Homo sapiens: one gene and its partners. The protein of the gene in region 6 purifies or fractionates together with the protein of the main gene of each other region. This does not show direct contact. Each region holds a gene or a part of one and is shown on either strand. Other genes may lie near its edges.

Region 1 (4,875 bases), on a different chromosome or scaffold from region 6:
ACAATCCACTGACTGGGCAAACTATCCACCTGACAAGGGATTAATAACCAGAATACAGGCCAGCGCGGTGGCTCACGTCTGTAATCCCAGCACTCTGGGAGGCTGAGGCAGGTAGATCACCTGAGGTCAGGAGTTCGAGACCAGCCTGGCCAACATGGCTAAACCCCATCTCTACTAAAAATACAAAACAAACAGCCAGGCATGGTGGTGCACACCTGGCATCCCAGCTACTTGGGAGGCTGAGGCACAAGAATCGCTTGAACCTGGGAGGCAGAGGTTGCAGTGAGCTGGGATTGCCCCATAGCACTCCAGCCTGGGTGACAGAATGAGACTCCATCTCAAAAACAAAACAAAACAAAATCCAGACTATATAAGGAGCTCAAACAACTCTATAGGAAAAAATTCTAATTATTGGATTAAAAAGTGAATAAAAGGGCCAGACATGGTGGCTCACACCTGTAATCCCAGCACTTTGGGAGGCTGAAGTGGTTGGATTGCTTGAGCCCAGGAGTTCAAGACCAGCATGGGCAACATAGTGAAGCCTCGTCTCTACAAAATATATAAAAATTAGCCAGGCATGGTGGCATGCACCTGTAGTCCCAGCTACTTGGGAGGCTGAGGCATGAGAATCACTTGAATCCAGGAAGCAGAGGTTGCAGTGAGCCAAGATCGCACCACTGCACTCCAGCCTGGACAATAGAGTGAGACCTTGTCTCAAAAAAAAAAAAAAAAAAAAAAAAGCAGGGGGCAGGGATTGGGGAGGCAAAAGATTTGAGTAGACATTTTTCAAAAGAAGACATACAAATGGCAAACAGGCATATGAAAAGGTGTTCAACATCATTGATCATCAGAGAAATGCAAATCAAAACAATGAAATATCTCACCCCAGTTAAAATGGCTTTTATCTTTTAAAAGACAGGCAATAACAAATGCTAGAGAGGATGTGGAGAAAGGGAACCCTTGTGCACTGGTGGTGGGAATGTAAATTAGTACAACCACTATGGAGAACAGTTTGGAGCTTCCTCAAAAAACTAAAACTAGAGCTACCATACCATCTAGCAGTCCCACTTCTGGGTACAGACCCAAAAGGAAATTAGTGTATCAAAGGGATACCCACACTCCATGTGTGTTACAGCTCTGTTCACGACAGCCAAAATTTGGAAGCAACCTAAGTGTCCATCAATAGATGAATGGATAAAGAAAATATGGTACTTATACACAATAGAGTACTATCCAGCCATTAAAAAGAATGAGATTCTGTCATTTGTAACAACATGGATGGAACCGGAGGTCATTATGTTAAGTGAAAGAAGCCAGGCACAGAAAGGCAAACACTGCACATTTTCACTTATTTGTGGGATCAAAAAATCAAAACAATTGAACTCATGGATATACAGAGTAGAAGGATGGTTACCAGAGGCTGGGAAGGGTAATGGGGGTGGGGATGATTAATGGGTACCCCCGCTAAAAAAAATAGGAAGAATGAAATAAGACCTAGTATTTGCTAGCAGCACAACAGCGTGACTATAGTCAATTATTTAATTGTACATTTTAAAATAACTGTAAGGATAATTGAACTGTTTGTAACACAAAGGATAAATGCTTGAGGGGACGGATACCCAATTTTCCATGATGTTATTACTCACTGCATGCCTGTATTGTATTTCACTGCAGAAATTCCATTTGATTAGAATGCTCAAAATCTACTAAAGGTTTTATGTAGTATGTAAAATATGCAACATCAAAATTCTGAAGTCTGAAATATTTGACCACAAGAAATTCAGAAAAAGGAGTTGTGGATTCTTTCTGTTCTCCATTACATATATCCCCAAAGCACACATACTTTAACCTGTGCTGAAAATCATAATCTTAAAATATGAAAAATTAAATGTCTTAGGCAACTAATAGTTATCTATTAGTGAACCATTATCCAAGGCCTCAACAGTTTACATAATGATGGTGACTGAATCTATAAGAGACCCCCAGAAAGAAAATGTAGAAGGTATGAATATCTCAACAATAAGTTACCTCTCTTCTTTTCTCCCTACGCTCCACCTTCTTACTCAAAGGAACAAGTTTCCTCCTAAGGGAAAGAAAATATATCAGAAAATCCACTGTCATGTGCTGTGTTCCTTTTTAAGGATGAGAAGAAAAAAGGATTGGAATTGGTGACTAAAATGGAAGTCTACTCATGTGCAGGGCAGGATGGCTGAGCTTCAGGCATTCACGGAGGCTAGCGATTCAAACAAGCCTTGGAGCCCAAGGTTGGTGCTGTAGGGCTCAGCTCAATACAGCAAGATACACTAAACGCTTCTAGAAATTTAATACTATAAAAAGTCATATATTTTTACATGTATTTTAATCCGGCCATTTTTGTTCAGGCATTCTGGGATTCTCAGGGCATTCACCATGCTAAAATTAAGACTTCAGTGAACTAAGAAAAAAGAATTTTCTGTCGAAGTCTGACATCATCTTTAGCATTCTATGTAGATCACAGTCAAAAAGCATTAGGGCCTAACAGTCCTAGAGAAGGTATTCTGTTAATTCTGGGGATTTCATATCACTTTTAAAAATTAGTTTTCAGTGAATCCAGAGTAAAGTTCTTACATTCCTGTATAGTCACATGTCTTAGATCATTTTCAAATCTCTAAAGTTAAGATTCCCTCGGGGGTCATAGAGGAAATTTTCTGAAGGCTGGGCATGGTGGCTCATGCCTGTAATCCCAGCACTTTGGGAGGCTAAGGCGGATCGCTTGAGGTCAGGAATTCTAGACCAGCCTGGCCAACATGGTGAAACCCCATCTCTACTAAAAATACAAAAAAAATTAACCAGGCATGGTGGTCCATGCCTGTAATCCTAGCTGCTCAGGAGGCTGAGGTGGGAGGATTGCTTCAACCGGGGAGATGGAGGTTGCAGTGAGCTGAGGTCGCGCCACTGCAAATTCCAGCCTGGGCGACAGAGTGAGACTCCGTCTTAACAAAAAAGAAAATAAAATTTTCTGAAAGATTTTCAGACAAGGAGGGTGATAATCAAGTTGTATTCTACTGTTTTAAAAGTCCTGCCATATCAAAGGGCACACCTTTAGTCAAAGCTAAAGTTTCTCTTTAGTACATCATAACAGACTCCACAAAGTTGAATAGAAAGCCCCGAAGTTTCACAATTTCTCAACTTCAAAACAAGCTCCATAAAAAGAGAGATTTAAAAATAATGAATGATCCAAATACTTACTGTCGCTTTAGTGTAAGTTTTCTAATTCGAATTAGGTATTGGGTGATCTTGGTGAATCTCTGCTTACATTTGTGTCGAATGAAACGGGGCCAGTAAATCAGATTTTCATCTATTTGCTCCAGTGCTTTCTCATAGTTTTTACTAAGCCGGACCTACCAAACAGAAACAGGAAGTTTGAAGGGCAAGTGTAAATGATTCATTAGGTTTTCACTGTCAGTGACACCCATGGCCTAATGAGGATGGCCTCAAAAGTTAATGGTCATGGAATTGGGCATCATGGTCAAGCATGTGGCTTTGATGCTCTTGATCAGCGGTCACTGTAGTTTTGTTGTAAGGCTTACCCGTTCCCAGAGACGCCGAGGAAAAGCCGCTCGTTCTATAACCTTCATATACAAGTAGCACTGTCCTGAAGATAAAGTAAAATAGCTTTAGTGTTATTTACAGAAACTAAAGAACATCCCTGTAAAAGCTGTGGAGCAGTTCTTCTAGAAGTTAAAACTGGGGAGTTACCTTTCTCTTCTTTAATAGTGGCATACTGACTATTTGCCAGGGGACAGGATGACCGATTACACAGTCCAGTCAGGCTATATTCATTTCGGCAGAAGCTCTGAGTCTTGGTTCTAGAATGGGAGAAAAGAAACAAAGATTATAAAATGGGTTGCCAAAGAGGCAACTGAAGGAATCTTTGACCAAGTTGTAAATTGAGACTCACCTTATTTTGAAGGAACAAAATTGCTTGTTTCCTAGTGTATCCCAGATAACCTGCAAGACAAAGTAAAAGCCCATTTCAAATCCTCTGCCCCAAGAGATACTATATTAATTCAAGAAGGCAATGCCCAAGGACAGGAATGAGAGGAAGAAATGTTTTGTAAAATAGCCTGACTTGTTTACTTTTTAAAATACAAACAGCAAGGCCGGGCACGGTGGCTCACGCCTGTAATCCCAGCACTTTGGGAGGCTGAGTTGGGCGGATCACCTGAGGTGAGGAGTTTGAGACCAGCCTGATTAACATGGAGAAACCCTGTTTATATTAAAAATACAAAATTAGCTGGGCATGGTGGCGCATGCCTGTAATCCTAGCTACTCGGGAGGCTGGGGCAGGAGAATCGCTTGAACCCAGGAGAGGGAGGTTGCGGTGAGCCGAGATTGTGCCATTGCGCTCCAGCCTGGACAACAAGAGTGAAACTCCGTCTCAAAACAAAACAAAACAAAACAAAAAAGCCCAGCAGATTCTTATAGAAAAGCTAAATACAGATGAGCAATAATCATAACTCCATTACCCAGAGATAAAATTTCATTACTATTCTGTAAATATTTTTCCAGACTTTTTTTGACATACTCTGTGAAATCACATTTTATATACTTCGTAACTTTCCCTTTTTACTTATGTTCATTATCCATTATTAAAGGCTCTCATGGGCCGGGTGTAGTGGCTCACACCTGTAATCCCAGCACTTTGAGTGCCAAGGCAGGCGGATCACTTGAGGTTGGGAGTTTGAGGCCAGCCTGGCCAACATGGTGAAACCCCATCTCTACTAATAGAAAAATTAGCCAGGTGTGGTGGCAGGTGCCTGTAATCCCAGCTACTTGAGAGGCTGAGGCAGGAGAATCGCTTGAACCCAGGAGGCAGAAGTTGCGGTAAGCCGA
Region 2 (3,621 bases), on a different chromosome or scaffold from region 6:
AACTACTACTAAAATTGGTAATATTCTAAGTGTTGGCATTATCAAGGTCTCGAATACCAGTTAAGATCATTCTTTTCCCTCAGTTTCTACCTATTTTCAAAAATTAGTATTTTTTCTTTCCAAATGAAAAATATAATATTGCTTTTACTGTTTATATATATCATTTACTATTATGTAACTTTGTTTATGCTAGGCTTTAAGAAATGAGCTCCCCAACAGCCTGAGTTTTCACATGGAATTTATGGCACTAAAACTTAGGGGTTTTATATGTCTAACATCTAAGGAAGCCCTTGGAACAAAACAACCCTTTGTTGATGAGAATGAGCGGGCAAAGAAAGTGGTGAGTGGGGAGCTCTCAGACCTTGACAGCTTTACAAGTTAACATTCATCAGTGTGAACAAATGGGGTTAAACCACATGACATTACCAACGGTCAAAATTCCTGGATGTGAATTACTGTAGCTGTATTATTACCTGTTCTATGTATGTAATTTGATGAAAAAAATGGACTGACCTTGAAGTCGTTCATCATTCTTAGAGAAAAAGAAAAATCTAGTGGTCTCTTTCTCAAGTAATGATGCTTCTCTGAAAAGAAAGGGACAAAGGAGAGAGAAAAATAGGTATTGGTTGGTTTAATTTCAATATTTAAGAAGAAATATTTACATTCAAAACATAAATACACTATTTCTTAAATATATCTTTTTTCATTTCCCCCTAGAATCCAGGTGAGCGAGACTCTTAAATATATCTGCTTTGTATTTTGTGCATTTTGCCCTGAGTTAAAACAACCCTCCCTCTAACATTCTTCTATCTGAAGCTTTGATAATGAAGACTTGTTTAAGTAGAACCTCTATCTTTCCTGTGTTGGTTGCTGATACTCTCACTCCCACCATTGCTACCCCATTTGCCAGTGCCTCCCATGGGTAGGCACCCAGTCAACTGCAACATCCTGTTTCCAGACCAGTGACTTCACTGTCAGGCCACCTTCCCTTTTCTATGCACAAACTATCTTCCCCTTAGTGCTATCCAAATCTCATGGAAAAGGAAACACACTCTCCATTATAAAAAGGCTAGAGAACACTCTAAAGAAACTGAGATGTCCAGGCTCAGTGGCAGGGCGCCTGTAATCCTAGCACTTTGGGAGGCCAAGGTGGGCAGATTACTTGAGGTCAGGAGTTCGAAACCAGCCTGGCCAACATGGTGAAACCTCGCCTCTACTAAAAATACAAAAATTAGCCAGGTGTGGTTGGCACGTGCCTGTAATCCCAGCTACTTGGGAGGCTGGGACAGGAGAATTGCTTGAATCTGGGAGGCGGAGGTTGCAGTGAGCTGAGATCATGCCATTGCACTACAGCCTGGGCGACAGAGCAACACTCCGTCTCAAAAAAAAAAAATAAAATAAAAAAAGAAGCTAAGACAATTTAGTTGTCATGTGAAGAGAAGCTAAAATATTTCTAAAGTATGTCTAATTCAGATTTTACAAATTATGAACTATGCCTGCAAAGAAACAAATTGTTTACCCAGGACTGGAGTTTCTGTGATCTGTTTCTTCAGTAACATCTTCCTCTTCTGAACTGCTGTCTTGTAAACGAGGGTCTTCCTGCCAGACAATCTTTCCAGGTTTCACTGTTTCAACTCTGTAGGTCTCTATATCGTTATGACAACAAAAGATGATGGGATTGTAACTCCACAGCCAAGTATTTCTGAACACATTCATTTGATTACTTTTACCACGTAGACATATCTAAAGTTCCAATATGTTAATCATTAATTTAAAATAGTATCAAAAAAATAGGTAGTATCATCTTTTTAGATTTTTCAAATATTTTCAGAAGCCACTATCATAATTTTGGCATTGCTAGAATGATCTGATAAGGACAGCAGTAATATAAAAAAGGTTTAAAAAATAAAGGTTTATAAATGAGCTATATAATTTTTAAAAATGACACCTAAAATAACCATGGCATCTGTGCTTGCATGAGAAGCCTAAAATATAATAGGATACAGGGAAATCAGGTTTCCCTCTTGTCTATTTATAAATGAGAAAAGGAATATATCTTTACATTTTCAATACCCAAAACTTTTTGCTAGAACTGCTGGAAAAACTACTGCTATAAGATCAGGACAATCACCTCACAAGTCTTCAAAATTTCCCAAGTACTTAAAAAACATCTTTCAAGTTGCTGATGTCTTTAGGACTCGTTTCAAGGTCAATTTCTCACGTTTTGCTCTCAAAGTTAGAAAAACTATCGTTACTATTTACATCATGCCAACTCTACTCAACAGTTTATATAGACAAGAAAATGAAGTCTTATTTGCAATACTTTTTGAACAACTACTAGATTGTTATACTTCCTTTTAAAGTACCACGGAGTTGGTATTATCTGCTAGTGAACCGAGATTGCACCACTGCACTCCAGCCTGGGTGACAGAGACTCTGTCTCCAAAAAAAAAAAAAAAATTATTTTAATCTACCAAACACATGTATGCTATTTTAACTGCTGATCTTTAAAGTAGAATCATTGTAGTTAGGTATGTGTGTATTCTTCTGTATAGGTATTACCTGCTTTTACAGTGGGAACTTCCAGAAAGCTGGAACCCTGGGTGAGGAACAGGTCAGGTGTTTTTTAACCTGTGGCCCATGTTGGCCTTTAGAGGTAAGCCTCTTGAAATGAAATGCAAAACTGTATGTACTAGTGTTTATACTTCTCTCTAGGTTCTGGCAAATCTTCAAGGATAAACTGTGCAATAACTGGCATATTGATGACATGGCATATTTGTGTAAAACCAAGGTTACCTATATCTTCTTTTATCTTATATATAGCACTAGTTTTCCATAAGTCATAGCATCTTCAGCTTCATTTAAGATACAAAGCTCTTTATGTGATTTACTATACTTCTTCATGACGTTTTACTTAACAGAAAAGATGCTGTACATTATTCTCTGGCTTCCCTTCATATGGCAGCTAGTAGAGATTTGCTTCCTTAAATGCAAAAATAGTTTCTTTCACAGCTTCAGGAACATCGTGTTTATGCTCCTGTGACACTAAATCTCAAATCTTCTAGGTAGAAGAAAGAGTCCTTTCTTCAGCTAACATGAAATCTGTTACACTTAATGCAGATTCAATCAATTAAGTTCAAACTGAATAAAATAAAAAAGTATGGGAAAAAAGAAAAGTACCTTCCTTTATGTCTTTAGTGTCTGAATCAAAAAAAGAGAACGTGAACCCGCTGGGCTGCTCAGCGTCACTGGTCAGAGCTGCAGGGTCCTGGATTTCCTCAGGTTTCTCTTTACCACAGTCCTCATTCCAGGGTGTGCCCTCTTCCTTTTCACTGGTATATTTTGTAGTTTGGAATATTTCTTTCAGATCCATAGCAATATTATAATACATTTCTTTAGACACCTCAGGTAGTTTCTCAGCTTCCTCCCTTTTCTTTTTTCGTTTTGCTTTACTGAAATGACATATGTAGACATGTGCATCACAAAGAAACAAGTTTTGGGAAATTTCCAGAAATCAAGAAAAGAAAAAATCTTGGACAACTTTAATTCTATCCTATCAACAACCAGAATATAAAACTCTACTTATAAATAGAGAAATAAAATAAGTAAAACTCTACATAT
Region 3 (4,875 bases), 5.1 Mb from region 6:
CGTGATGAGGAATAGCAAGGAGAGAATTCAGCTCCAGTTCAAAAGCCTACAAAATCTGAGACTGTCATTGCTTTTATAAGGTAAGTTGATTTAGCCGTGCACAGAGCAGTGGTGGATCTGATGCTCAGCTGTACTGTAAAACAAGAGGTATGTGTTAAACCTATTTCTGACCATTTTGGAAGAAGGATATCATTTATTTTATTTTGTTTTATTTTTGAGACAGAGTCTCGCTTTGTCCCCCAGGCTGGAGTGCAGTGGCGCGATCTTGGCTTGCTGCAACCTCTGCCTCCCAGGTTCAAGCAATTCTCCTGTCTCAGCCTCCCAAGTAGCTGAGATTACAGGCGCCTGCCACCATGCCCAGCTGATTGTTTTGTATTTTTAGTAGAGACTGGGTTTCACCATGTTGGCCAGGCTGGTCTCAAACCCCTGACGTCAGGTGATCAGCCTGCCTCAGCCTCCCAAAGTGCTGGGATTACAGGCATGAGCCACTGTGCCCAGCCAGAAGGGTATCATTTTTAGTCATTGTGGAGTCTCTGTCCTGGAACCATCCCCAAGTGACTCTACCTGGAGTTAAATTGTATTTCATTATGCAGGAAATCTTGATATAATAGCATTTTACTTATCTGTAAATTACTTAAGAGACACATTGAGCTACAAGGTTTTTTGTTTTTGAGACAGTCTTGCCCTGTCGCCCAGGCTGGAGTGCAGTGGTGCAATCTTGGCTCACTGCAACCTCCACCTCCTTAGTTCAAGCAATTCCCCTGCCTCAGCCTCATGCCACCAAGCCCGGCTAATTTTTTTGTATTTTTTTTTTTTTTTTTAGATGGGAGTCTCACTCTGTTGCCCAGGTTGGAGTGCAGTGGTGGGATCTTGGCTCACTGCAACCTCTGCCTCCTGGGTTCAAGCGATTCTCCTGCCTCAGCCTCCTGAGTAGCTGGGATTACAGGTGCGCACCACCACGCCTGGCTTATTTTTGTATTTTTAGTAGAGATGGGGTTTCACCATTTTGGTCAGGCTAACCTCAAACTCCTGACCTTGTGATCTGCCTGCCTCTGCCTCCGAAAGTGCTGGGATTACAGGTGTGAGCCACCGTGCCTGGCCAATTTTTTTCTTTTTTTTTTCTGAGATGGAGTCTCACTCTGTCACCCAGGCTGGAGTACAGTGGTGCAATCTTGGCTCACTGCAACCTCCGCCTCCCGGGTTCAAGCGATTCTTCTGTCTCAGCCTCCTGAGTAGCTGGGACTACAGGCGTGCACCACCACGCCTGGCTAATTTTTTGTATTTTTAGTGAAGATGGGGTTTTACCATGTTGGCCGTGCTGGTCTCGAACTCCTGACTTTGTGATCCACCTGCTTCGGCCTCCCAAAGTGCTGGGATTACAGGAGTGAGCCACTGCGCTCAGGCGTGCCTGGCCAATTTTTTTTGTATTTTTAGTAGAGACAGGATTTCACCATCTTGGCCAGAATGGGCTCGAACTCCTGACCTCAGGCAATCTGCCTGCCTCAGCCTCCCAAAGTGATGGGATTACAGGCGTGAGCCACCAAGCCTGGCCCACTACAAAGATTTTTAAACATTACTGCATTATGGCCGGTCGTGGTGGCTGATGCCTGTAATCCCAGCACTTTGGGAGGCTGAGGCGGGCGGATCACAAGGTCAGGAGTTCGAGTCCAGCCTGGCCAACATGGTGAAACACTGTCTCTACCAAAAATACAAAAATTAGCCAGGCGTGGTGGCGGGTGCCTGTAATCCCAGCTACTAGGGAGACTGAGACAGGAGAATCATTTGAATCCGGGAGGTGGAGGTTGTAGTGAGCAGAGATCATGCCATTGCACTCCAGCCTGGGCAACAAGAGCAACACTCTGTCTCAAAACAAAACACCATTACTGACTGCATTACAAGGAAGACCGCTTTCTTTTGGATCTCTATGAAATGTTCTAGAGCTCTGTAAATTCTGTCTCTAAAAGATCCTGTCTTGATTCTCATAGTATCGTTTTTTTAGATTAGTACAGGAAAAAGAATGGTACATGAGCCTAAATTGACATATTGGGCTAGAGGTTTAGGGACTTTTAAAAAGCAAAACTGGCCGGGCACGGTGGCTCATGCCTGTAATCCCAGCACTTTGGGAGGCCGAGGCAGGCAGATCATGAGGCCAAGAGATCGAGACCATCCTGGCCAACATGATGAAAGCCCATCTCTACTAAAAATCCAAAAAAATTTAGCCGTGCATGGTGGCGTGTGCCTGTAGTCCCAGCTACTTGGAAGGCTGAGACAGGAGAATAGCTTGAACCCGGGAGGTGGAGGTTGCAGTAAGCTGATATTACGCCATTGCCCTCCAACCTGGTGACAGAGCGAGACTCTGTCTCAAAAAAAAAAAAAAAAAAAAAAAAGCAAAATCAAGAGTCTATTTGCAAGCAAATTAACTTACAAATTTTTTTTTTAGAGGCAGGGTCTCACTGTGTTGCCTAGGCTGGTCTTGAACTCCTGGCCTCAAGCGATCCTTCACCTGGGCGTCCCAAAGTGCTGGGACTACAGGCATGAGCCACCCCACCTAGCCATTAAATTTTGCTTTTTTTTTTTAAATTTTTTTGAGACAGAGTTTCGCTCTTGTTGCCCAGCCTGCAGTGCAGTGGCGCAATCTCATCTCACTGGAACGTCCACCTCCTGGGTTCAAGTGATTCTCCTGCCTCAGCCTCCCACGTAGTTGGGATTACAGGCATGCACCACCACGTCCGGCTAATTTTGTATTTTTAGTAGAGACGGGGTTTCTGCATGTTGGTCAGGCTGGTCTCAAACTCCCGACCTCAGGTGATCTGCTTGCCTCGGCCTCCCAAAATGCTGGGATTACAGGCATGAGCCACTGCACCCGCCTTACTTTTTGTTTTTTTTTTTTAAGAGAGACAGGGTCTTGCTTTGTCACCCAGACTGGAGTGCAGTGGCGTGATCACAGCTCACTGTAAACCTCAAAATCCTGGGCGAAGTGATCCTCCTGCCTCAGCCTCCTGAGTAGCTAAGACTGCAAGCATGTACCACCACACCTGGCTAATTCTGAAAATTTTTTTTAGAGATGCGGTCTCACTATGTTGCCCAGGCTGGTCTTGAACTCCTGGTCTCAAGTGCTCCTCTCATCTCAGCCTCCCAAAGCGCTGGGATTACAGGTGTGAACCACTGTGCCTAGCCAGTTTACCATTTCGTAGCAATAGAGTATTGTTTCTTTTTTTTTTTTCTTAAATTTATTTTTTATTTTTATTTTTTTGAGATGGAGTCTCGCTCTGTTGCCCAGGCTGGAGTGCAGAGGTGTGATCTTGGCTCACTGCAACCTCCGCTTCTCGGGTTCAAGCGATTCTCCTGCCTCAGTCCCCTGAGTAGCTGGGATTACAGGCATGCGCCACCACAGCTGGCTAATTTTTGTATTTTTACTGGGGGCGAGGTTTCCTCATGTTGGCCAGGCTGGTCTCGAACTTCTGACCTCAGGGTGATCCGCCCACCTCAGCCTCCCAAAGTGCTGGGATTACAGGCATGAGCCACTGCAACCAGCCGAGTTTTGTTTTTTGTTTTTGTTTTTTTTGAGACAGAGTCTCACTCTTGTTGCCCAGGCTGGAGTGCAATGGTGCGATCTCGGCTCACTGCAACCTCTGCTTCCCGGATTCAAGCGATTCTCCTGCCCCAGCCTCCCGAGTAGCTGAGATTACAGGCGCCTGCCACCGTGCCTGGCTAATTTTTTGTATTTTTTTAGTAGAGACGGGGTCATGTTGGTCAGGGAGTATTGTTTTTTAAGTAATATTCACTTAAAATGTTTTAGATTTTATAATATTCTGGTTTTCTTTTAAATTAGAATGTCAAATTACACACTTTTTATTTTCATTTGGATAGAAGGTGTCTATGGAATGTAACTTCTTTTTTTTTTTTTTTTTTTTTTTTTGAGACGGAGTCTCACTCTGTCGCCCAGGCTGGAGTGCAGTGGCACAATCTTGGCTCACTGCAAGCTCTGCCTCCTGGGTTCACGCCATTCTCCTGCCTCAGCCTCCTGAGTAGCTGGGACTACAGGCCCGCACAACCATGCCTGGCTCATTTTTTTGTATTTTTTTAGTAGAGACGGGGTTTCACCGTGTTAGCAAGGATGGTCTCGATCTCCTGACCTCGTGATCCGCCCACCTCGGCCTCCCAAAGTGCTGGGATTACAGGCGTGAGCCACCGCGCCTGGCCGGAATGTAACTTCTTAAAGTAAATGTTATCATTGTTGATATTGTATTGAAGTTTTCTCTGTGATATACCATATCCTATGGGCTGAAATTTCCAGCATCCCTTGGGGAGTGGAGGCCATCAGGGCAGACCTGCTATGGACCTGAAAGATTCCGCCCCAGGTCAGCCCTCCACTCCCCACCTCCCCACAATTTGAGAATGAGAGGGAACAGGAGTCAGGAGCCGGAGTGTTGGCCCCAGTAGACTCCAATCAATGTTGGACATGATTCTGATTGGCTAAACACTGTGTAGATGTTTTTAAACAAAGTCCATTTAAGGTTACTGCACTAATCAAGGAGTACTGGATTATAAAAACATCTATAAATCTGAGTTTGAGTATTTTTTAAAACAAAATTGTTAAACCAGATGTGTTGCTTTTTTTTCTTGTCATCTCTAAGTATAGTCCTCAGTTAAATATACTAATAAGCAAAATGCACCAAAACTTTTGGCTAATAGTTGTGCTTTAACTTAATATTTGTTATTTCATAGAGACTGCTATGAAAAGCTTTTTATTCTGAATCACTGTACAGTTATTCTTTGATCCTGTCAGTCAAATCTCATTTTTAGGGTCTTGACTAGGTTTTATGAAAGCCCAGTAAGGCAGTTTGCCCATAAGGCAGTCATCAGTCCTGTTTC
Region 4 (3,500 bases), on a different chromosome or scaffold from region 6:
ACTTGGGAGGCTGAGGCAGGAGAATCACTTGAACCCGGGAGGCGAAGGTTGTGGTGAGCCAAGATTGTGCCACTGCACTCCAGTCTGGGCAACATGAGCAAAGCTCCGTCTCAAAAAAAAATTAAAAATTAAAAATTAAAAATAAATAAATAAAAAGCTCTTGAGATCAGTGGTGAGATGCAGTTCAGTTCCTGTTGAAATGCATTTATTGCTTCCTGATAAAAGTCCAGTGGGCAACCATTACCCGTCTGTGTGTACACATCTAAACACAACTGCCAGCTTTCCCAACAATCAACCTGAACAGCCACATCCTTTGAAAACCCTTACTGGTTTGACTGCCAACCTATAGGTAACCAAAGTGAAGTCTTTACGCAGATGCCACAGCTTGCTTCCACAGCTGAGCTAAGATAAAACATTTCAACTCTCCCTCTAGAGGGTTTTGGGGTTACAGTGCAGTGGCAAAATGAGAAGGATCTTGTGATGTGGGGAAAGAAACCAAGGGAAGCCTGGGTGGCTCCTAATCCTCCTTACTAATGGGAATTCTCTATGATTTCCACTTTTCCATCCTTATCTCCACCCTATTTCCCCACACAGCTAATATTCCTTTTGAGCCAGAGAAGCCAACATTCCTTGAACTGTGCCATGGTTTTGCTCCCTCAATTCCTGGAATTCCACCTCCTCTGTACCCTTCCACATCTTTGCCAGCAGGAAGCTGGGATAGAACCTCTTCTCCTCCCAATGTAACCATATGCCCAGTAATTCCATACTGCTCCACTGTACCTGAACTTTATTCACAGCTGGCAAACCTCTGGGAAGGAGAACCCACCCCACTTTGGTCACTAATACAGTGTCCCATGGTAAGCGGCACCTACCTGGGGAATGCCTGCTGAGTTAAAACCCAAAAGACAGAATTTACTGGCACCTGCTCCAGGGATGTGCCAAACCTGTAGCATCTGCCTCAGCAGGAAACACTAACCACACTGTCTACAACCCTCTGACAGGATATCCAGACAGCCATGACCACTGCACTGTCTGGTGAGGAGGGGGGACTTCAGGGCCAGAGAAGGAAGAAATGGTTCAGGGAGAAAATGCCTCCCACCTTCAGTCACTCCCCTTTTCTCCCTTTTCCCAGGTATGTTGCTCTCAATCCTTTCTACAAGTCTCCTTGTTCAGCTGTTGGCAGAACCATTCCTTAGTTTTCAAGGGTTATGCTGCCAGAGTCCCACAGCAAGGTGCTCTGCAAGGGAGCAGCACAATCCCTTCATTAGCACTGGGGTTTTAACTGCTTTCTACCTTGACCACATCCATGTATTTTGTCTGCACGGGGAACAGTGGGATATCCTCATCTTTCTTGAGCGTTTTGTAAATCTTCTTAAAGTTGATCACATCCTCAGGCCCAATGAGCATCAGACTGAGGCCTTCATTGGTAGCTCGAGCAGTTCGACCACTTCGGTGGACATAAATCTCCGAGGTACGTGGGACCTGCCACAGGAAGAACTGGGAGATCAATACATGGCCACTGCCAAACACTGGTCCTCTCCTCAGGGCCACATCCCCAAACCAGACCCTCCTACCTCCCAGCCAGGCAGGTAGAAACTTCTGCAGCATTGTAGAGCAATCTAGCCCTCCTCTCTTAGTCCCACATTCAAAATGTTCCCAGGTTTAGCCCATTCACTGTGTAGGCTCTTCCCTCCCATGCCCCTGACCCTGGTTCAGGTCCTCAGGACCATGCAGCCAGACCACAGCAGTCACTTCTTATCCAGGATTTAAGCAGCCCAGCTCCACAGACCATGTTAATCCCTGGGTTATACGGTCTCTACTCCTATATATATTTTATCCATAGATAATGTGGCATGGTTGCTAACACACCCACTGAGCCCCTGGCACACACCATTAATCAAGCACAACAGTCTTCTCCACTGGGCCCAGATAACATCTAGGTATCCTTTTCAATACAGTACTTTAAGTAGCCACTATGAACTGTTCATAAGAGTTCTAGAAATGAGATTTGCCTTTCTTTACTTACAGGATAAAGGCCCAACTCTTCAACCTGACACTCAGCGCCTTTAGTGACTTGCCCTCAACTTACCCCTCCAGCCTCAGCAACTATTCCTTTCCCAACACATACCCTCTTCTCACTGTGAGCCAAGTGCCCCTGAACACTGCCCATTTCTTTGCTCCTTCCTTTAATGCCTCTATATGTCCAAATCCTCTTCACCCTTAAATGCCAGGCATGTTTTTAGAAAGTACTTTCCAACCTCCCAAACTAGAAGTTACCTCTCTCTTCCATTGTATTTTGTAATTTTCTAATACCTTCTGCCTTAAATTATGGCTGTGGTCATCTCACCTCCTCTGCTGGATCCAATACTTCTTAGGGGCTGGGACTGTATTTGATTCATCTTGACTCCACAAAGGTTGACCCAGCTCCTTCCCCAAAAAAGGGAAGACTATAGAGATTTGCTAAACCAAAATTAGCACCTGTGATACAGTGAAATATGTATTTGCTCTTCATCCTGTTTCCTGGCAAAGGAATCTCAAAAGTAATGTCTTTTTGTATACTAATGACAAACTATTGACTGATGGCTGATAGCCCCCCAGGTAGTTTCAGGATGGGGGCTGGTCACCAGAAAGGCCAAGGCAGGATTAGAAGGTTGGGACTTGCAGCACTACTTCCTAAAGGCCAATGGCTTAATTAATCATCTTACCCAATGAAGTCTCCATAAATATTCCTAAAGGACAGAGTTTGGAGAACTTTTGAATAAGCTGAATATGTGGACATTCCTGGAGGGTGGTGTACCCAGGAGGGGCATGGCAACTCCATGCTCCTTCCCCTGTACCTCAGCCTATACATCTCCCCATCTATATTCTTTGTAATATCCTCTATAATAAACTGGTAAATGTGTTTCTTTTAGTTCTGAGAGCTGCTGTAGCAAATTAATTGAACCCAAAGCGGGGGGTCATGAGAACCCCAACTTGAAGCTGGTTGGTCAGAAGTTCCAGAGGCCCTGACTTATCGACTGGTTGCGGGGAGGAGGGACATCTTGTGGGATCTGAGGCTATCTCCAGGAAGACAGCATCAGAAAATGAAACTAAATTAGAGGACACCCAGCTGGTGGCTGCTGCTTGATATGTGGTGAAAAACGCCCACACATTTGGTTACAGAAGTCTTCTATGTTGATTGTTGTTGTGAAGTGAGAGAATGGGAAAAAGCACTGTGAGTTTGTTGTTTCTCTGAAACAGCAGCCTAAAAGATTTTTAAAAGCACAAAGAGGAATTAAAGAGGAAAAATGATAATGCCATACCAGCTACCATTTATTGAGTACTTACACTGTGCTACCGGCTTCATCAGCATCAGCTCAATTTAATTCTCAGGATAACCCTATGGGGTAGCTAGTTGTTACTTCCAGTTTACAAACAATGACACTGAAACCAGAGGTACTAAATAACTTGCCTAAAGCTAACCAACTATGAAGCAGCAGACTGGGGATTCAAAGCCTGGC
Region 5 (4,875 bases), on a different chromosome or scaffold from region 6:
GCAGTGGCACCGTCTCGACTCACTGCAACCTCCACCTCCCAGGTTCAAGTGTTTCTCTTACCTCAGCCTCCCGAATAGCTGGGATTACAGGCATGTGCCACCAAGCCCGACTAATTTTTGTATTTTTAGTAGAGATGGGGTTTCACCATGTTGGTCAGGCTGGTCTTGAACCTCTGATCTCAAGTGATCCACCCGCCTCGGCCTATCAAAGTGCTAGCATTACAGACATGAGCCACCGCGCCCAGCAATAAAAACTTCCTAGTATATTCACTAGCACTCTGATACCTATGATAGTGACATAAGGGCAGCCTAACATAACGATTTCTAAATACTGCATTGTCGGCCGGGTGCGGTGGCTCAAGCTTGTAATCCCAGCACTTTGGGAGGCCGAGGCAGATGGATCACCTGAGGTCAGGAGTTCGAGACCAGCCTGACCAACATGGGGATATCCCATCTCTACTAAAAATACAAATATTAGACAGGCGTGGTGGCAGGTGCCTGTGATCCCAGCTACTCGGGAGGCTGAGCAGGAGAATCTCTTGAACCCAGGAGGGAGAGGTTGCAATGAGCCGAGATTGCGTCACTGCACTCCAGCCTGGAAGACAGAGCGAGACCCTGTCTCAAAATAAATACATACATACATACATAAATACTGCATTGACTTCAGTCTTTGATATCACACAGACAAACCAGAAGGCAATGAAAACTGAATAAACTTGTTTTCTTTCAAGTCTAATTTAGTATCTATTAAAAAATGGCTTTGGGAGTGACTCACTGACTGGTAAAAAACCATCTCTCCTTACAGGTCAGAAAAAATTTCAATTAAAATTTTTGTTAATTAAATTACTTATTTCTAAGTTAAATAGCATTAGGAATCCTTATATATGGTTCATAGAATATAAAAGAAAAATGTCTCAAAGGGCAGTTTCTTAATAACTCACCTGGATTCACTTTTTCGTTTTACTGTTTCTAAAAACAATGTTGAAAAACTTTTTTTAGCTTGTCGTTGAATTTCATATTCTGAATCTCGTATTCTATTCTGAGATGATCCTGATGGTTTTCTTTCTTGTCCTTCCGATGTTTTATCCTCTTCATCTGATACTTTATTATCTATTTCTATTTTCTTTAACATAACTTTATCATCAAAGTTTAACCTAAAAGGTTAAAAGGAGGGTAAGCTGAATGCTCCCGTAACGTTTCTTGAGTTATAAGTCTTCCTGAACTCCTTTACAGAGACAATACAGACCAATTTAAAATTCTGTACTAGGCATTTATTTAAGACATAAATGCTGATTTGTGCATTCCAAATACATAAGATAAACTGCTCAGGAAAATTAACTTTTGTATTTATCAATAGAAAAACATGAAAGAGAAAATAATGGCTAAAGTATACATCAATGAAATGTATAGCTAGGCAATGGTTCTCAGGGCAATCTTAGAGCACTGTGACAGACCAAACTTTGAATATCAAAGTCTTAGAATATACTTAACTCCTTGGCTCCAGTAATCATACAATACTCTAAATAGAAATTACACTCATTACAGAGATCTCCAAATGCAAAAGACCTTGAATCCACTTTGTTTCCTAAAGGCCAAAGGTAAGGTCAAGAAAGAGAAACCAGCTGTCCACAAAGCATAGCATCCTCAATAATACTTATGCTCTGCTACCCTTGAAGTGACCTGATACACATCTACACTTGCAATTACAAAAAATATTGAGAAAATACAAATTGTTTCTCTTAGGAAGCAATCAAATATTATCAGAGAGAAAACACATTATTCCAGACTATAGAAAAGTTAACCTCTAAACTTCTCTGAAGTACACTTTAAGCCCTTCCTTAATTATTACAAACTGAATATATGCTAAATGTATACTTTCTCATAACATGTTAATATTCCTCCTTCCTTAGTGTAAAATAATATAACAAGATTGAATTACCATTTTTTAATACAAAAAGTAAAATTTTTAAAGTGCGTTAACATTATTTAAATAAAATGTTACCTTTTTTTGGTTTTAACTGAAACCTCTGTACTTGAAGGCAGCATATTTACTGAATTTTCAAAAGTGTAAGTCTCTCTCTTTTGGGCACTAGATGGAATAACATTTTGTGATACAGATGTTTTTGCATCCAAAAGAACAGAAGGTGAGCCAACGGATAAGTAAAATTCTTCATCAGCTTCACTGTGATGATCATTTATGTTTCTACTTGATATTTTTTTCGAGTCAGGTGTATTTTTGGAACTAACATCAGTTGCCAGAATTTTCTGATGAACTTCATGGGCCTGAACTAGAAGAAAATTATATAAAGATATTTGTCAATTAAAAGAATAATAAGAGAATCAAGCAGGCTTTTTAAAAATTCTGCAATAATTTAATCAGAAATAGTTTTCAGAAAACTCAAAGTCATTAAGATTAGAATCAAAGATCTATGATTAAAATAAGTAAGTACTTAAGATTCTTCTATCTTTGGGCTAAAAATTGGTGACCTAGGGCAGCTAGATGATATATTTACACATACACACATGGAATATAGATATAACAGATATAGAGAGATACAACATAAGCATGTGTGTATATATACATACACAGTATATATGTATATGAACATTTATCTATAATGAGAAAATTTAAAAGAATGTATCCATATTCTCTTAACCCTCACCCTTCAGAACGAGATGGCATTTCCCTGCTTCTCCCTCTAAATACAACTAACTTCCCTGGAAATTATCCATCAATCAACAACAGGACTCTGAAAGCTGGAAGAAAAAAAGGTAGACTAGCTAGGAAGCTCAAGACCAGAAACAGACAAGCCTTAGGTTTTCTGTCTGTCTCCCATATACCCCTGGACTGGTTGCTAGTATAACCTGTAACCACCAATAGGTGAAAGACAGGGTGGAGGCTGGGTGGAAATGCATTCTCTGAACAAGGTAAACCCACCGAAGACCTAATGAGGAAACTCAAGCCCCATTCAGCACTCTCGGCCATGGAGCACTCCTTACTACCTGCATTGGCAAAGCAACAAAGCCCTGGGCTGTGCTATGGGACTGTAGCAGTAAAGGAGCTCATACCAAGCCAGTCCCGCTTCTACAATCATAGATGGCAGGCGGTATGACCCACATGAAGCTGTAGAGTAGTGAAACCCCTGACCTTCACAGCCCAAGGCAACATTTTGATCCACTGATAGTATTGACACCCCAGGCCATCCCAGTCCCTACTTTACAACCAGGGCACCAGCAGACAGTCTAATCTGAGGCAAGAACAGCGTAAGAGAGGCCAGCAACCCCCTGTCCTCCACCCAATGATATAAGGAAACCCAGGACCAGCAGCTTCTAACCAGAACCCCACACAAGTGAACATGGACATCAAAAGGCATCTTCTACCCACCCCAGACAGCACCAACAGGAACTGAGCTAGAATCCTAACAGCATCAGAAAATGAAGTAGAACAAAATACCACTATTACTCTGAACACTTAACTATCATTGAAAATAAAACTCATAAAACTAGGAAAGAGGGGCTGGGCGCAGTGGTTCATGCCTGCAATCCCAGCACTTTGGGAGGCCAAAACGGGTGGATCACTGGAGGCCAGGAGTTCAAGACCAGCCTGGCCAACATGGCGAAACCCCATCTCTACTAAAAATACAAAAATTAGCCAGGCGTAGTGGCACATGCCTGTAATCCCAGCTACTCGGGAGGCTGAAGCATGAGAATCACTTGAACCCAGGAGGCGGCGGTTGCACTGAGCTAAGATCACACCACTGCCCTCCAGCCTGAGCGACAGAGCAAGACTCTGTCTCAAAAAATAAACAAATAAATAAATAAATAAATAAATAAATAAATAACACAGGAAAGAACCTATACATTAAACCAAAATAGGGCAACTATGTGCTGTAACAAAAGATTTAAGTAGTCTAAGAATCCCCTAACATAAGTAACCAAATCTCAGGAATACAATCAAAACAACTCGTCATACCAAAACCAAAACAAACCAAAAAAAAAAAAAAGTAAGAAATAATGATCAATAGACATAAATGAGATGAATCAGATTTTAAAATTATTTAACAATAAATTTTAAAGCAAACATCATAAAATGCTTTAATAATCAATTACAAATCCTCTTGTAACAAATGAAAAAGAAACTCTCAAAGTAGCATTTTTTAAAAAAAAGTTTTTTGGATATTAGCCATTATCAGTAAGTAGTGATTTTTAAATATTATTTTAAATTTTCCTAATAACAGTGATGTAAAACAAATCAAAACTACAATGAGATACTACATCACACCCATTAGGATGACTATTATTTATAAAAACAAAAGATAACAACTGTTGATGTAGAAAAAAATGGAACCTTTGTGCATGCACTGCTAGTGTGAATGTAGAATGACAGTCACTATGAAAAGTGCACAGTGGATCCTTAAAAACTTAAAACTGAAAGCAGGAACTCAAAGAGATACTTTCACACTAATATTCATAGCAGCATTACTCACAATAGCCAAAAAGCGAAAACAACCCAAGTGCCCATCAACAGATTAATAGATAAAAAGTGGTATACACATACAATGAAATATTACCCAGTCTTAGAATGAAATTCTGACACATACTACAACATGGATGAACCTTGAAGACATTATGCTTAGTGAAATAAGCCAGTCACAGATAAATTTTCTGTCTGAAATTCATGGACAGAAAAAAGTAGAATGGTGGTTGCCAGGGCTAATGGAAAAAGAGATACTGTTTAATGGGTACAGTGTTTCAGTTGTGAAAAATGAAAGAAGTTCTATGGATTCATGGTGGTGATAGCCTCACAACAATGTGAATGTACTTAATGCTACTGAACTGTATACTCAGAAATAAAGTGGACAATTTTATGTTTAT
Region 6 (4,875 bases):
GGGGTGTAGTGGAGAACTCAAGGAAGATGGTAGCCTTGGCCAGGGGCCTGGCCAGACTGGGATGTGAGGGAACACAGGATGGCTGCTGCCCTGGCTGCTGGGTGTAGGGGGCAGGGTCCAGGGCAGGCCTGGAGACAGGTGGCCCCTGGTGGCTCAGGGAGGCTCCTGCTGAGGCCCACGGTAGGTTTCTCATTCAGGTGACTGAGAAGTGGAGCTCAACCACCACCACCCCTGCCCAATCCCAGCCTACCCACTGCTCTCCTGGCGATGGAAGGCCTGGCATGGGGAAGGGGGGCGGTAGGCTGTGGATGGATGGGGCCAGGATTCATCCCAGGGTCCCCAGGGAGGCACTGACAGCTATGGAGCTGATGGTTTTGTGGCCATCAAAATATTGTGGCAAGGTACCTCCCGAATGCAGGAGGCTCAGACCTGGTTGGGCAGGCCCTGAGGAGAGCCAGAACTTGGAACCAGTGGTGCTGGTCCAGCTGGGCTGGTGGTTGGTGGATATTAACAACATCTGCACATCACTGTGTGATGGTTCTCGTGCAGGGACTGGGCAGGCTGCCTGTCTGTGCTGCCCACCTTTTGGGGAGGCTGCTGTGGTAGAGCCGGGGTGACTGAGTTGGCTTCTATTCCAGGCAATTCACAGGTGCTGGATGTGGCCCACAGGCCTGATAGTCTGACCCATCAGACATTGAGGGCCTCCGCTAGGGCTCTGGAAGCCCCAGATGGTGTGGCCTCTAAGGCAGGGCTTTCCCAGAGCCTGTGGACATGGACCGTACCTGACCTGGGGTCTGGGGGTCTACCGGGAAAAGGATCTGGGGCAGGCCTTGGGGGCCTCCTGCCTGCAAGCATGGTAGGCAGGTTCCACAGCTGTGTCCTTCCACCCCTGCAGAGCCCCTGAGTGAGAGAGAGCTGCTGGGGGCTAGGCCTGAGGCTGCAGGCAGGGGTTGGGGGCAGCCTGGCCCAAGCCCTGGCTGTGATGAGGAGACCTCACCAGGCAGTGCAGCAGGACCAGAGTGGGGAGAAGGTATAGGCCCTGAGCCTGGATTTCTTCACAGGTTTCAACTTCTGCAGCAGCCACATGGCTGTTGCGATGAGGGGTTCCCTCAGGTGCTACCCCTTGGATTCTGTAGCCAGAGACTGGGCAGTGAGCAGTGAGCCCGGCTTCTGTTCTTGAGGTGTTTGGGGCTGGGCAAGCTTGCTTTTATTGGTATGTGTGAGTGAATATGTGGAGAGAATCCACGGGGCTGAGGAAATGCTGAAGGAATGCCTGTGGCCCTCCTGGGGTGACCACCTGGTCCCGGTGTGCCTGCGATGGTCCTGGTTCTAGCACTGAAAGCCCTGCACCCCAGAAAATGCCCAGGTCCCTGGCAAACCTGGATGGTTGGTCACTGTGGTCTCTCTTTCATCCCCTTTCCTTCCCTTTCCCTTCCTGGGATGACTTTTCCCATTTCCCAGGAGATGACCCAGAGGCCCAGAAAGTGACAGGACCTGATCTTCAGCCTCAGAGGGTCACGAGTGGAGCCTGAGCTCTGAGGCAGCTCACTCAGGCTTGAATCCCTTCCTTGCTAGTTTCGGCTCTGTTGCTGTAAAGTGGAGCCACGAGTGATGGGCTGCCTCCTGGATGGCTGGCAATGCTGGGAGTGGTGCTGGGGGAAGGGCGGGCAGGGGCCCACTGGCCTTGACCCACTCCTGTGCCCTCTGTCCCCGCAGTTGCTGGTTGAGAAGACAACTGACTCCCCGGCGGCTGAGTTCTCGCTGGTGGAGGACGTGGCGCTGCACTTTGCCTGCTTGATGGGCCGCCTGAACGAGCAGCGCCTCTTCCAGCCTGACCTCTGCGACGTGGACTTGGTGCTGGTGCCCCAGCGCAGCGTCTTTCCGGCACACAAGGGTGTGCTAGCCGCCTACAGCCAGTTCTTCCACTCACTCTTCACCCAGAACAAGCAGCTGCAGCGTGTGGAGCTGTCCCTGGAGGCACTGGCACCTGGTGGCCTGCAGCAGATCCTCAACTTCATCTATACGTCCAAGCTGCTGGTCAACGCGGCCAACGTCCACGAGGTGCTCAGCGCCGCCTCATTGCTGCAGATGGCTGACATCGCTGCGTCCTGCCAAGAGCTGCTGGACGCCCGCTCTCTAGGCCCACCAGGTCCGGGCACTGTGGCCCTGGCCCAGCCGGCTGCCAGCTGCACTCCAGCTGCGCCGCCCTACTACTGTGACATCAAGCAGGAGGCCGACACCCCAGGCCTGCCCAAGATCTATGCCCGCGAGGGCCCTGACCCTTACTCGGTGCGTGTTGAGGACGGGGCAGGGACTGCTGGTGGCACAGTGCCTGCCACCATTGGGCCAGCCCAGCCCTTCTTTAAGGAGGAGAAGGAGGGTGGTGTCGAGGAGGCCGGTGGGCCCCCAGCCAGCTTGTGCAAGCTGGAGGGTGGAGAAGAGTTGGAGGAAGAGCTTGGGGGTTCTGGCACCTACAGCCGCAGGGAGCAATCCCAGATCATCGTGGAGGTGAACCTCAACAACCAGACACTGCACGTGTCCACGGGGCCAGAGGGGAAGCCAGGTGCCGGGCCAAGCCCAGCCACCGTGGTTCTGGGCCGGGAGGACGGGCTGCAGAGACACTCGGACGAGGAGGAGGAGGACGACGAGGAGGAGGAGGAGGAAGAAGAGGAAGAGGAAGGTGGTGGCAGTGGACGGGAGGAGGAGGAGGAGGAAGAGGGTGGCAGTCAGGGAGAAGAGGAAGAAGAGGAGGAGGACGGGCACAGTGAGCAGGAAGAGGAAGAGGAGGAGGAAGAGGAGGAAGGGCCTAGTGAGCAGGATCAAGAGAGCTCTGAGGAGGAGGAGGGGGAGGAGGGGGAGGCTGGGGGCAAGCAGGGGCCACGGGGAAGCCGAAGCAGCCGGGCAGACCCCCCTCCCCACAGTCACATGGCCACACGGTCCCGGGAGAACGCCCGGCGCCGGGGTACCCCTGAACCTGAAGAAGCTGGGCGGCGGGGTGGGAAGAGGCCAAAGCCACCCCCTGGAGTGGCCTCTGCATCGGCCCGAGGGCCGCCAGCCACTGATGGGCTGGGGGCCAAGGTGAAGCTGGAGGAGAAGCAGCACCATCCATGCCAGAAGTGCCCACGAGTTTTCAACAACCGCTGGTACCTGGAGAAACACATGAATGTGACCCACAGCCGCATGCAGATCTGCGACCAGTGCGGCAAGCGCTTCCTGCTGGAGAGCGAGCTGCTGCTGCACAGGCAGACAGACTGCGAGCGCAACATCCAGGTGGGCCTCACGTGGCTGGGGGCAGGGCAGAGGCTGTCCAGGTGGGGCTAGGCCATAACTGGGCTCTGGGCACCTAGTGTCTTGCTGACTGCATTACCTAGGTGGTCTGCGGAGACCAGACTTAGCCCCCAGACAGGCTGGCCCAGGCCCAGTTCTCAGGGTGGTTAGAGCTCAGGGGTAACATCAAGCCGAGCTTCCTGGGAGAGGTGGATAGAGTTGGGCGCATGAAGAGATGTGCAGAGGATTGGAACAAACAGTACCCTTGGCCAGAGGGACAAAGGGGACACATGGACTTGGGAGGATGAGAGTGGAGAGTTGTCTGAGCAGACAAGGCCAGAAGACAGGCCACTCTGGGTGGGATGAGTCAGACGGGGTTTTAACAAACACGGGGGCTGTAGGAAGGCCAGCAGGGCCACTGTGTATAGTTTCACAGGTTGTGCACTGCAGCAAGTGAGCACACGATGGGAGGAGGGGTTTGCCCAGAGGGATGCCATCCTCCACTTCCCACAAAAGTGCTGTATGGAGGAGGGGGCAGCCCAGCAGGAGGCAGCCCCCACTTTCAGCTCTTTGGGGATGCCAGCTCCCATGGGCCTGGGAAAAAGGGATTGGGTGAGAAATTTGGGAAGAGCAGAGGCTGCTGGGGTAAGCAGGGGAGCTGAGCTGGCTGCTGGGCCTTGAGCCAGCCTGAGTCTGTTTGTGCCAGCCTCACTTCTCAGGGTGGGGTGGCACAGGGCCAGCCAGGCTCCCACGGGTGGTTTTCACCTCTTCTGGCCCAGGAGAAGGGGGAAAGGTAGCAGGTAGGTGGGTGCTAATTGCCTGCGCTAATTGCTAATTGCAGTGCCCTGTGGAGAAAGTGTTACCCGGGGGTCACCTGCTATCCTGCCCCACCCTTGTGTACCTGTGCCCACTTGCCCGCCTGCTGGGCTGCCCTTTGATGCTCTAACTGCTGCGCACCTGAGTCTCCCTCCTGAAGGAAAAAGAAGCTTCTGCCCCATCCAACCTGAGTACCCTGACCAATTTCTGCCCAAGCCTTGGCCTAGCCTCCATCCCTGTGGGGTGTCCTGCATAGATGGGCAGGACAAGGGTCCAGGAGAACAAATGGGGGGATATGGTCCCCAAGATCCCCCACCACTCTCTGTGCCTGATGGGACCTTGAGCCTCCTGCTGTCCTCCTCAGCCAACGCCTCTGGGACTCATCCTCTTGGCGATATTCATGGTGTCATGGCACAGGTCCCAGCAGGAGGAGGCAGCAGTGATAATGGCTCACTCTGTGGGACCTGTTATCTCTGCGTGTAGCCTCCATACCAGAGGGCGCCCTTCAGCTAGTTGTCTGCCTTACCTCTATAGACAGACAAAGGGTGATGCCTTTGGAAGCCCTTGTTGAAATGAGCCCAGAGTGGGGAATTTCCTGGAAGAGGTGACCCCTGACCCTAGTTAACTCAAGGATGAAGGAGGACACCAGGCTGTGTGTTTGGGGGTGTTTAAGGAGTTTTCATCCCCAACCTTAGAAACATCAGAGCTGGCTGGCTGTTGGCATCAAGGGCTCTCCAGCATATTTCAAGTGGGAAAACTGAGGCCAGACGGGGGCAGTAGCTTGCCCAAGTC
Region 7 (3,500 bases), on a different chromosome or scaffold from region 6:
CTAGAATTTGATGTCTAGGATTTATCTGTTATCTTTTGCAGTACTGTAATTTTTTCTAGTCCAAGGACTTATCTGAATATTGAACATTTATTGAACATGATTGTACTCTATGATCTTGGAAGCAGTCTTTAATAAAATACAAAATGATTTTTTAAACCTTTGATTCATTAAGTAATTAGCATTCAATGTATCTGGAAACATCGTTTACCCTCTATAAGAATTCCAAAACACATGAACTGGAGCTTGTATTTAAAAAGGAAAATGATGGTGTTCATTTCAAGGAGTAGAAAAGACTTAAAGTGAGGGCGACACTTAGCTACTTCTGAGGATATACTATACTCAAAACCTTTAAATATAAGCTACGGTTCAGCAGCTTTTAAAATTTCATGTTTATTCATATTTTTCAAAATATATGTACATTAAAAAAGGAAGATTTACAACAGGAAAGATTGCCTTACATGCAACACAAATTCCAATGAATTCATGATGGGATCACACATGATTATGATCTAATTCAAGCCAATCTTCTCAAGTCCATTTCCCAGCCATACTTTAGGCTACAGAAGGGATCCCAGGAGACAAAAGTGGAATGAATAAGAAACAAACATCTTTTGCCTCTGGCAGTACTCAAGGGGCCAGAAGATGTACTTCAAAAACTTTAAGACAATTAAAATGTCAAGTGCCACAGGGAAGAGAAATGATAACCAGAAATTTGTATTTCTAGCTAGTACTATTTAACACAACTTCACAATACTAAAACAAATACAAATAAGAAAGGGTTAGGTAGTTGGGCTTCATTTACTTTTTTCCTTTTCTTTTTTTTTTTAATATCTCAAAAAGGAAGCCACTTGCTTGATATCAAAAGTGCTGTGGAAAGAAAGGAGGGGAAAAAAACCCACAAATAAATGTAGAATCTAGTTTATTTTACCAAACTGTATATTTTTCCACTTAACATTTCTACATTAGCAATGATGTAACTCTCCAACATTTCCTTATAAAAAAGGCAAACAAGAAGTGACAACTCATGCTCCAAATATTAAAAAATATATTTAAACATATGATCAAGAAGATTTGGGCCGTGAGTGGTAGCTCACATCTGTAACCCCAGGATTTTGGGAGGCTGAGGTGAGTGGATCACGAGGTCAGGAGATCGAGACCATCCTGGCTAACATGGTGAAACCCCAACTCTACTAAAAATACAAAAAATTAGCTGGGCGTGGTCGTGTGCGCCTGTAGGACCCAACTCAGGAGGCTGAGGTGGGAGAATCGCTTGAACCTGGGAGGCGGAGTTTGCAGTGAGCCAAGATCACACCACTGCACTCCACACTGGGCGACAGAGCGAGACTCTGTCTCAAAAATAATAATAATAATAAAAAATAAAAAAGATTTGTTTTGATTTTTGGTAACACAGGTGACACCAGAAATCACAAATCAATATATTTCTACACTTCCCCTTCAGTCAAAAACCAAGTGGGATAGGCCAGGCACAGTGGCTCACTCCTGTAATCCCAGCACTTTGGGAGGCCGAGGCAGGCGGATCACCTGAGGTCAGGAGTTCGAGACCAGCCTGACCAACACGGCGAAACCCCATCTCTACTAAAAATACAAAAAAATTGCCAGGCGTGGTGGTACACACCTGTAATCCCAGCTACTCGGGAGGCTGAAGCAGGAGAATTGCTTGAACCCAGGAGGTGGAGGTTGCAGTGAGCTGAGATTGCACCACTGCACTCCGGGGCACCTGAGCAAGACTCCGTCTCAAAACAACGACGACAACAACAACAACAACAAAAAACAAGTGATATAGAGAACTTGTGCTTGCTGTTAAGGGAATGCAATACTTTGGGCCAGTGAAAAATACCTAGAAATTGATCAATATGAAATGTAGCCCAAAGGAGTCATATATCTTCAAAATCTAATGAGATCACCCTGTTTTTGGCTTATTCCCAAAGCTGTCTCTGTGTTTACAGTTGGAGAGAAAAGGTTAGTGGAGTGGCTTTTATAAATAAGATTAATTATTACAGCTATAACTGAAGTCTCCAGGCAGGAGGCTTTACAACTCAGTCAGTGCTATATTGTGCCTCCATTTTACTTCCAGGACCTGACTGGCATACCGTTCTTGATGCTTTCTACAAATATAAAAATCTCTGCAACTGTTTAGATAAAATTGGAAGAAAAAAAAAAGGCAAAGCTGACCATAAAAACAACAGGGGGTTGGGGGAGGCAGAGAAAAAGGACAAGTATACATTACATAGTTTAGGAAAGTCCAGGATTATTGCAGAAATTAAAATGAACAAGGAAAAGGGCAGGCACCAATAAAAGCACCTAAAGCTAGCAAATGCCTAAACTGGTTTATTTAGAGTCCCTCCCCACAATGTTCATAGGGGAGGAAAATAATGTAATTTGAAAAGCATCAAAACTAAACAAATGCACACTGACCTTAGAAAATAAGATTTTGAATTTCATCATGATACCCTTTTTTCCTATAAAATTTACTTTTTCACTCTGAAAGACTTCTTCATGGTGGATTTGCCCTTGCCCGGCAATTTTACTTCCTTTCTTGCACTGGTTGCAGGCTTCTTTGAGGAGCCACCACTAGGTTTCTTGATGACTGTGGATGAGGGTCTGGTCTTCTTGGCAGGCGTTTTGGCCTTAGGAGGTGCTTTCTTAGGCAAGGGCCTAGCTTTCCCCCGCTGGGCAGCTGAGACTTTAGGTGCAGGTTTGGACCCTCTCTGCTTCACAGATGCGGCCTTCCCTGGGGACTTGGCTGGGGTTTTCTTCTGCAACCTGTGAGAACCAAAGAGCAAAGGCCGTCATTTAGTACTTAAGAGATTCGTTTTGTTGGGACAACCAGATGCTTTCTAAAGAGAAACGGCATATGAAGTGGTCACTTACGTTAAGAATAGGAATGTGACAATTTTTTACTAGAGATTTTACTAAAATTGTATAAAAATTCAACCAATTCATGAAGTCTAGACACAATTTCATGACGTTGTTCCTAGGGAAATATGTAATTATTTTTCTTTGAATAACTAAACTATGGATACACACAGGCTTGCCCTAAAAGTCTGGAGCCCTTGATTTTCAAAGGAGAAGATCAATCCAAATTTATATAAAGAACTTGAGAAGGATCCTGAGTTTCTGAAATGCTTTTTAGCTTTAGCCCCTCCTATAGCACTATTTTTCAGCTCTGAGGTATTTAGTGTCCTCCCCACAAGGGGTTTTCACATGTCCACACCTTCTCTTAGGTGGCGGCTCTTCATCCTCAGAGTCTTCTTCTGATGACTCATCTTCATCTTCATCCTCATCTCTAGAATCATCTGGCTCTTTCTTCGGAAACAGAACTCCTGGGCTATACGGGGAAAAATTAGATTAAAACACAAGTCCCATATAAAACAAGAAAAATAATGTGAACCTAGATGCTCTTACCTGGACATATCCCACTTCTTCCCACCCTTCCCAAAAATGTCAAGCTAGGTTACACGTATCAGGTTACAATTTAC

The links.
Region 1: the proteins of ZBTB47 (region 6) and MAK16 purify together in Homo sapiens (affinity purification with mass spectrometry; one large-scale study listed by BioGRID and IntAct). This does not show direct contact.
Region 2: the proteins of ZBTB47 (region 6) and NOL8 purify together in Homo sapiens (affinity purification with mass spectrometry; one large-scale study listed by BioGRID and IntAct). This does not show direct contact.
Region 3: the proteins of ZBTB47 (region 6) and DHX30 purify together in Homo sapiens (affinity purification with mass spectrometry; one large-scale study listed by BioGRID and IntAct). This does not show direct contact.
Region 4: the proteins of ZBTB47 (region 6) and DDX24 purify together in Homo sapiens (affinity purification with mass spectrometry; one large-scale study listed by BioGRID and IntAct). This does not show direct contact.
Region 5: the proteins of ZBTB47 (region 6) and CENPC purify together in Homo sapiens (affinity purification with mass spectrometry; one large-scale study listed by BioGRID and IntAct). This does not show direct contact.
Region 7: the proteins of ZBTB47 (region 6) and HP1BP3 purify together in Homo sapiens (affinity purification with mass spectrometry; one large-scale study listed by BioGRID and IntAct). This does not show direct contact.

Annotation. Positions count from the first base shown.
Region 1 is NC_000008.11:33,487,493-33,492,367, reverse strand, and holds part of MAK16 (protein MAK16 homolog), read right to left. Parts: intron 3,991-4,875; coding exon 3,941-3,990; intron 3,849-3,940; coding exon 3,739-3,848; intron 3,635-3,738; coding exon 3,570-3,634; intron 3,381-3,569; coding exon 3,229-3,380; intron 2,084-3,228; coding exon 2,029-2,083; intron 1-2,028.
Region 2 is NC_000009.12:92,298,371-92,301,991, forward strand, and holds part of NOL8 (nucleolar protein 8), read right to left. Parts: intron 3,453-3,621; coding exon 3,181-3,452; intron 2,441-3,180; exon of another isoform or gene 2,437-2,440; coding exon of another isoform or gene 2,387-2,436; exon of another isoform or gene 1,647-2,386; coding exon 1,520-1,646; intron 585-1,519; coding exon 514-584; intron 1-513. UniProt on the Homo sapiens protein: Plays an essential role in the survival of diffuse-type gastric cancer cells. Acts as a nucleolar anchoring protein for DDX47. May be involved in regulation of gene expression at the post-transcriptional level or in ribosome biogenesis in cancer cells.
Region 3 is NC_000003.12:47,805,341-47,810,215, forward strand, and holds part of DHX30 (ATP-dependent RNA helicase DHX30), read left to right. Parts: 5' UTR 1-80; intron 81-4,875.
Region 4 is NC_000014.9:94,053,703-94,057,202, forward strand, and holds part of DDX24 (ATP-dependent RNA helicase DDX24), read right to left. Parts: intron 1,483-3,500; coding exon 1,294-1,482; intron 1-1,293. UniProt on the Homo sapiens protein: ATP-dependent RNA helicase that plays a role in various aspects of RNA metabolism including pre-mRNA splicing and is thereby involved in different biological processes such as cell cycle regulation or innate immunity.
Region 5 is NC_000004.12:67,517,215-67,522,089, forward strand, and holds part of CENPC (centromere protein C), read right to left. Parts: intron 2,289-4,875; coding exon 2,003-2,288; intron 1,155-2,002; coding exon 942-1,154; intron 1-941. UniProt on the Homo sapiens protein: Component of the CENPA-NAC (nucleosome-associated) complex, a complex that plays a central role in assembly of kinetochore proteins, mitotic progression and chromosome segregation.
Region 6 is NC_000003.12:42,656,559-42,661,433, forward strand, and holds part of ZBTB47 (zinc finger and BTB domain-containing protein 47), read left to right. Parts: intron 1-1,716; coding exon of another isoform or gene 1,717-1,797; coding exon 1,798-3,270; intron 3,271-4,875. UniProt on the Homo sapiens protein: May be involved in transcriptional regulation.
Region 7 is NC_000001.11:20,742,308-20,745,807, forward strand, and holds part of HP1BP3 (heterochromatin protein 1-binding protein 3), read right to left. Parts: intron 3,350-3,500; coding exon 3,236-3,349; intron 2,785-3,235; coding exon 2,490-2,784; 3' UTR 1-2,489. UniProt on the Homo sapiens protein: Component of heterochromatin that maintains heterochromatin integrity during G1/S progression and regulates the duration of G1 phase to critically influence cell proliferative capacity.